2 linked regions of the Homo sapiens genome follow. The protein of the gene in region 2 interacts with the protein of the main gene of each other region in a pairwise test. Each region holds a gene or a part of one and is shown on either strand. Other genes may lie near its edges.

Evidence for each region. The genes of interacting proteins can lie anywhere in the genome.
Region 1: the proteins of GAB1 (region 2) and PLCG2 interact in binary tests that used the Homo sapiens proteins (3 or more experiments, as listed by UniProt).

What each region holds. Positions count from the first base shown.
Region 1 is NC_000016.10:81,908,204-81,911,950, reverse strand, and holds part of PLCG2 (1-phosphatidylinositol 4,5-bisphosphate phosphodiesterase gamma-2), read right to left. Parts: intron 3,536-3,747; coding exon 3,360-3,535; intron 1,432-3,359; coding exon 1,231-1,431; intron 1-1,230. UniProt on the Homo sapiens protein: The production of the second messenger molecules diacylglycerol (DAG) and inositol 1,4,5-trisphosphate (IP3) is mediated by activated phosphatidylinositol-specific phospholipase C enzymes. It is a crucial enzyme in transmembrane signaling.
Region 2 is NC_000004.12:143,339,767-143,343,513, reverse strand, and holds part of GAB1 (GRB2-associated-binding protein 1), read right to left. Parts: intron 55-3,747; exon of another isoform or gene 1-54. UniProt on the Homo sapiens protein: Adapter protein that plays a role in intracellular signaling cascades triggered by activated receptor-type kinases. Plays a role in FGFR1 signaling. Probably involved in signaling by the epidermal growth factor receptor (EGFR) and the insulin receptor (INSR).

The sequences.
Region 1 (3,747 bases), on a different chromosome or scaffold from region 2:
TGGCAGGCGCCTGTAGTCCCAGCTACTCAGGAGGCTGAGGCAGGAGAATCACTTGAACCCAGGAGGCAAAGGTTGCAGTGAGCCGAGATCATGCCACTGCACTCTAGCCTAGGCAACAGAATGTGACTCTGTCCCAAAAAAAAAAAAAAAAAAAAAAAAAGGAAATACAAAAATTAGCCAGGCCCAGTGGCGTGCGCCTATAATACCAGCTACTCAGGAGGCTGAGGCACAAGAATCTCTTGAACCTGGGAGGCAGAGGTTGCAGTGAGCTGAGATCGTGCCATTGCACTCCAGCCTGGGAGACAGAGCGAGACCCGGTCTCAAAATTAATTAATTAATTAATTAATTAATTAGCTGGGCACAGTGGCACACACCTGCAGTCCCAGATAGGAGGCTGAGGTGGGAGGATCACTTGAGCCCAGGAGCTCGAGGCTGCTGCGAGACGTGATTGTTCCACTGCACTCCAGCCTGGGCAACAGAGCAACACCTTGTCTCAAAAAATTGATTCATCTTCATCCACCCAAGCAGCCCAAACCTGAAAAGCCAGGCTCCCAGGGAGGCACAGTTATTGCCACGTGTCTCAGAAAATCGAAGACGGAGATCACAGCAGGAGTTTCACAAGGTTTTGGGTTGTTTTCGGGTTATTTCTTAAGATAAGAAATAGCAAGTTTTAAGAGGCAATCCATAGGAAAATGTGACAGAAAAAGTGAAAAAAAAAGTTGCTATAAGTAATACGGCCTCCTCGGAAATGGACATTTTTGCAGCTTTCTGCCTAAAAATTGTTTTTTCTTTATTCCCAGAATTTGTTGACCCTTCGCAAGACCTACCTTGATACTCATTTCACTAGATAAAAAAAATCAGCGGGAGACTCTTATAATCATTGTTTCCTTGTTCATTTTCAGAACAAACAGGAAGGAGCTCTGAAAGGTAAGAGAATATCCCCAGGCCAAAATGACCCTCTGAAAATCAAAGCCCAAAGTCTCGGGGCTATGAAGACAAAGTAGAAGAAAGGGAAAAGAGAAAAGGGGAGGAAAGAAAGAAAAGAGAAAAGGACACAGGTCATGGTGCCAGGAATTTGGAAACTGGCCACCTCGGCAATTTTGAGATGCCGGTGGGCTGGGGAGAGGGTGTCCTGGGGGACTGGCCCGGCTGAACCACCAGGCCAGCTTCTCTGCCTGGTGGAGCTAACCCGACCACCGCCTGCCTCCTGCTCCACCCTCAGACACGTACGGCTTGGACTCGTGGGGGTTGGGGTTGGGCACAGGGTCCGTGAGCCGCAGCTCGAACTCGGCGCAGCGCAGGTGCGTCTCGCGGTAGTGCTGGATGAGGGCATAGATGCTGCTGAAGGTGAGGTTGTCAGTCAAGTAGTATTTCAGGGTCCCGCCCTCCATGGTGGAGCGGATCCGGCAGTGCTGGACCCGGCCTGACCGCCTGCGGGGAGAGGACGCCATCAGTGCTGGGAGAACGCAGGCCAGGCCATTGCGGCAGCCAGGGCCTCAGAGGCGGGGACATTACATGTGGCCACACAACCTTCCCTCTGCTCCTAGAACAGACACAGGAGGCTGGGCGCAGTGGCTCATGCCTGTAATCCCAGCACTTTGGGAGGCCGAGACGGGTGGATCACCTGAGATTAGGAGTTCCAGACCAGCCTGGCCAATACAGTGAAATCTCGTCTCTACTAAAAATACAAAAATTAGCTGGGCATGGTGGTGCATGCCTGTAATCCCAGCTACTTGGGAGGCTGAGGCAAGAGAATCACTTGTACCTGGGAGACGAAGGTTGCAGTGAGCCGAGATCACGCCACTGCACTCCAGCCTGGGCGACAGAGCGAGACTCCATCTCAACAACAACAACAACAAAACCAGATGCAGGGCCTTAGTATAGGCTAGACCCTCAGCCTGGATTCCAGAACATTCTACCTACTTCCCCCACCCCACCCCACCCCATCCCCCTTTTATATATATAACTGCTTCTCTAGAGCCAGGATGCCTGGATTCAAATCCCAGCTCTGCCACATATGAACCAAGTGTCCTGGAGCAGGTCACCCGTGCTGTCTGAGCCACACTGTATTACTACCCCAGCGGTCTGACAGGAATGATAACAGTATCCACCTCAAAGAGGCATCCTGAAGAGTAAACGAGACCACACACACAAGGTGTCTCGAATACTGCCCAGCACATGGTAAGCATCATTTAGGTGTCCAGGATTATTTGCGTGTTATTAGTATTCTAATTTTCAGCCAGGTGCAATGGCTTACAGCTGTAATCCTAGCACTTCAGGAGGCCGAAGCCAGAGGATTGCTTGAGCTGAGTTCAAAACCAGCCTGGGCAACGTAGTGAGACTCCAGCTCTACAAAAAATTTAAAAGTTATTCAGGTGTCGTGGCATGTGCCTGTAGTCCCAGCTACTTAAATGGCTGAGATAGGAGGGTTGCTTGAGCCCAGGAGTTTGAGGCTGCAGTGACTGAGACTGCTCCATTGTACTACAGCCTAGGCAACAGAGCAAGACCCTATCACAATTTTTTTTTAAGTGACAGAATTATAATTTCCCTCTTTCAGGTCTCATCTTCTTTCAGGAAGGTTTTCCTAACCATTCCCCACGTCAGGGCATCAGAGCCTTCCTCACAGACTTTCACAAATCCCCCCAACTCACATTAAACCCCCCCAATAAAGGGAGGGATGTCCCTTTATGTTGCCTTGTTTCATTGCACTCATCACAACTATACTTGCAAATCATTTGAGTGACTGCTTTTTCATTGCCCATCTCCTTCAAAAGACGCTAGTGTCCAGGAGGACAAAGACATTGTCTGTCTGGCATAAGTACTGTGTCTAGCACAGGGCACGCCCTCAAGAAGTATCTTTTAATGCACTGAGACATGGATAAGTGGGTGGATGAATGAATGCACAAGCTCATCACAGCCTATGACGGCTTCAAAAGGACAGCCCTAGAGTCCTCGTTTTATGGAGGAGACAGAGATGCTAGAAGGTTGGCTGAATCATCCAGAGCCACATGACCCACTCCAGGGCTGGGATCGGGGAAAGTGAGTGAGACCACATCATCTAAGAGTAGGGTCAGATCTTGTCTTTGTTTAAAATGTTCATATTTTGTTCATCACAGACTTTTTTGCATTACTTTTGATTTTTTAAAAGATTGCCCTGAAATCTCATTAATCTGGGTTACAGTGCCGAAGTGAGTCATACCCACCTCACCCTTGTCCCGGCCTAGAAGAGCTAGACAAATGAAGCCTGGGATTCAGGTCCCAGCCTGCCCAATTCCTGCCTGAGCTAGAACCACTCGCCACCCTGCCTCATCGGTTGGCATGGAGAAGAAGGTAGGCGTTCCCTGGGTCGGGGGCATTACCAGAAGGACAGGGTGTAGTCATTGGGGAAGGTCTCGCTCTCCCGAACCAGGAAGGTGCCATCCTTGCCCCCCGTCTCCATGCAGTATTCCTGCAGCAACTTCTCGGCACTCGTCCTCTTCTCCACCTTCTTGTGGAACCATTTCTCCCCAAAATGTAGTTCTGTAGGGGGTATATCCTGGGCCGCAAAGAGAGGAGGGGTTTCTGAAAGCCTTGGACCAAACCCCAGCATCACTAGACAGGTCCTTCTGTCTCACCCTGACCCAGGGTACCAGATAACATAGAGAGGCCAGCCTCAGCTGGTCCCCACCCGAAGGGGTATGGGAAAACAGCACCTGCTACCCTCCTCTGCCTGCCTCCCACTCCTGAGAGCCCTCATTTATGGTGGCC
Region 2 (3,747 bases):
GATACCTGTTTATTATTCAGTCAACAGGCATCTGTTGAGCTCCTACTCTGAGCCAGGCATTGCACAGGGGCTCAAGACACAGCACCCAGCCCAGGAGCACAGCAGCCAAAGGCCCTGCATGCAGGTCTGCCTTCAGTTAAAAACCAAGAGTCCCCAAAGAATACTGCTTAAGCAGTCACTAAACTATTTAAGATAAATAGTAAAGATTTCCCCACAAGGAAGATTTATGTCCCCCAAAAATTTATGTTGCAGCTTATTGAAGAGCTCCCCATTTGTCCCTTCCACCCAAGAAAATGTCTGAGAAGAGGAACGCTAAACTGCAACAGGGCTTCTGCTGAAGATCTACAGCTCCTCCCTCCCCCATTTTACAGGTAAGGAAACTGAGGATCAGAATGGTCAAATGCTCCTGTGGGTGGGTAATGGCAAAACCAAGTAGAATCCGGGTCCTGACACTCAGTCTGAGTTTCCTTCCACTATAGCAAAACATCCCCACTAAAAGCATCAGTGGGTGCATCAAATTACATTTTAATACAAAATTCTTCAAAAGTAAAGTAGTAGCCCATCTACTACAATGCTCCTTCTGGCTGTCAGTCTCTGTAAGAAAATTAGGACTGCTGAGTACCTAACACATGTTTTGAATCTATCACCTCTGGCTGGGCACGGTGGCTCACACCTGTAATCCCAGCACTTTGGGAGGCTGAGGCGGGCGGATCACCTGAGGTCAGGAGTTCGAGACCAGCCTGGCCAACATGGCAAAACCCCATCTCTACTAAAAATACAAAAAAAAAATTTGCCGGGCGTGGTGGCAGGAGCCTGTAATCCCAGCTACTTGGGAGGTTGAGGCAGGAGAATCAGTTAAATCCGGGAGATGGAGGTTGCAGTGAGCCATGAGCCAAGATCATGCCATTGTACTCCAGCCTGGACAAGAGCGAAACTCCATCTCAAAAAAAAAAAAAAAAAAAAAAAAAAAGAATCTATCACCTCTGAAACTTTCTCAGTCTGCAAATTGTCAATAGCTTATCTACATATTTTTATGTTAAGTCTAAAATATGGGATTTTACTTACTCTCAAAAAACGCTGTGTGTTTTACTCCTTACATTTTTAAGCAGGTTATGGCAAAATACACTGAAATAACCAGTCACTTGTCAAACAGATTATCCAACTATAACTCTTGCCACTTTTTGTTCCAAGATGATCTCTTAAAAAAATAATTTTAAAGAGCCAGCAGAATTCTCAAACTACCCCCTCCAAACTAATGCACCTTCCTAACAGTAATTCTGAATCTCAAAAGGTAGCAATCAGATTTGGAGATTCAGCAAGTTGCACGTGGAGAGTTCTACACTTATCATTCAGCCCAGGCACAACAAATGAACTATCATTAACCATCATAAAGGCTTAATGTAATTGCAAGTTGATGATCTCTGTTAACAGAAAAAACATTCTTGCTACACTTGAAAAGGTAAAAACATTGGGAGTCTGAATTATGTTTACTAACATGAGGATGGCAAGAAAAAATTTCCTTCAATAGAATAATTATGCTTATTCAGTCACTGTAAGCAGAAACATCAGAATCCATTGATTGCTAGTGGTAATTGTCAAAAAAGGATAGGAAGAGCTTCTAGACATGACAGTCCTCTTTGTTGTAGTGACACTATTGAGCAGGGGTTTCATGCTTAGCACAGGTCCTGGGTTGTCCTTGAACCAAGGAGATGCTGACACTTGGCCTGCCCACGCCCCTCTCCTCCATGTCAGATGTCAGGTGCCCACCCAGTAGGAGAGGCTATTTCTGTTTCTAGGCCCATTTCCAGAACCAGGGGTGTGTTTTTGAAGTCCAGACAAGAGTTGTCCTGTTAATTGACAGCTGCAGAGCAGACAGAGAGCCCACGCTGGGTACAGATTACCTACCTAAGAACTGGCTGGGGCCTTGCTACCAGGCTGGCTGTCAGCTAACAGGCCACCTTGCTCTGGCCTCAGAAGCAGGTTCTCCTGCTGAGATTGTGCACCTGCCCAATGCTGACAGCTGGGCTATGGAGGAGCCCAAACTTAGTGTTTGGGCTTCAGGCAAGGAAGCTCCTCCTCCAGAGCGATGGTGGTAGCCAGCTGTCTTGAAACAATACTTTATTTACAGACTTGCATCTTATTTCAGCTAAAATTTCAGGTTCTGATGAAAATTTCACCATCATTTCTTTAAATAATTCTTTAAAAATCTGAGCACCATTGTTGAGTGCATACTACCAAGACTTTACTTGTTTTCTGTAATCCTAGTGACAGTAATCTGTTTATGATTCCATCAGGTCCTTAACAAAGTAAAAAAGCAGCTGTTTAATATATAACACAGCATGAAAACAGCAACACCACAGTAGCAACCCTGAAAAGAAGCATTAAAATTTTCACCTACATTTTAAGTAGATTTTAAAAACTTCCAGGAGAATGAAACACATACAAGAAAGAACCTTTTGCGAATATAGAAAAAATTAAAAAGAGAAGGAAAAGCTGGGGAATCTGCTGACTACTCTTGACTTTCATTTTTTTGTGTGTCATTCTTTAGAAAATTCAAGAAAAGCTTACACATCAGACTAACACACTAGCGTGTACAAAAAACAATCCTGCTTGAGTTGACTATGAAACAGTAAACATAAAACGGAGCTGTAAATGGAATACATTGGGGGCCATATATGAGATGGCTTTAAAGCTAAAACTAAAACAATTTAAGGCCAGGCGTGGTGGCTCATGCCTGTAATCCCAGGACTTTGGGAGGCTGAGGTGGGTGGATCACCTGAGGTCAGGAGTTTGAGACCAGCCTGGCGAAATCCCATCTCTACTGAAAATACAAAAATTAGCTGGGTGTGGAGGGGGATGCCTATAATCCCAGCTACTGGGGAGGCTGAGGCAGAAGAACTGCTTGTATCTGGGAGGCAGAGGTTGCAGTGAGCCGAGATAGTGCCACTGCACTCCAGTCTGGGTGACAGAGCAAGACTCCATCTCAAAAAAAAATTAATTAAAAAAAACTAAAACAATTTTTTTGTCACTTAAAAGCCCTTATGGATCATCTTAATCAGTGTTCGGACTACCCTATAAATGCTGTAAACAGTGAGACAACTGTCAAAGTCCCATGGGCCAAATATTTCCAAACAGAATCATGATGCTCAAACTCCCTGAAGTCTCATTTAATAATTATAGTATCAAGCATCCAAGATATCTTTTCATAGCAAATCCATTCATTACAAATCATTATCCACAAACATTTTGCCTACTGGGTGGCCAACAATGTTTCCTTTATCCAGAAAAATAAACATTCTACATAAAAAAAACAAGCATAGGAAATGCACGTATACATGTCTATATCTTTGATGGTCAAAGCTACTTTAGCAAAAACCATCTAAACTGGACAGCAAAGCCAAAAGATCAATAATCTGGGAATGTCAAAATCTTCTGGGCCACCAACCTGACAGGTAAAATACAAGCCTTATTTAACCTGACAGTTAAATAAGCCTTATTTAACTCATTACACTCCATGCTGGTTTCCTCTATTCTGACAGCCGCCCTGTCTACTGTCTTCCAGGACTATCTCCATCTACTTTATTCGTGGGTAAAGAAAACACCAGTGCTACACCAGGCAAAGAAAATCCTAGTTTCTCCCAAGCTATTAGGCACATTCATCCTCCTGTGGAAAACACAATGTAGGCAGCCCACTGTCTCTCTCAAATGTTCCCATAGTTTCAGTCTACATTGAACTTGTTCCTCAGA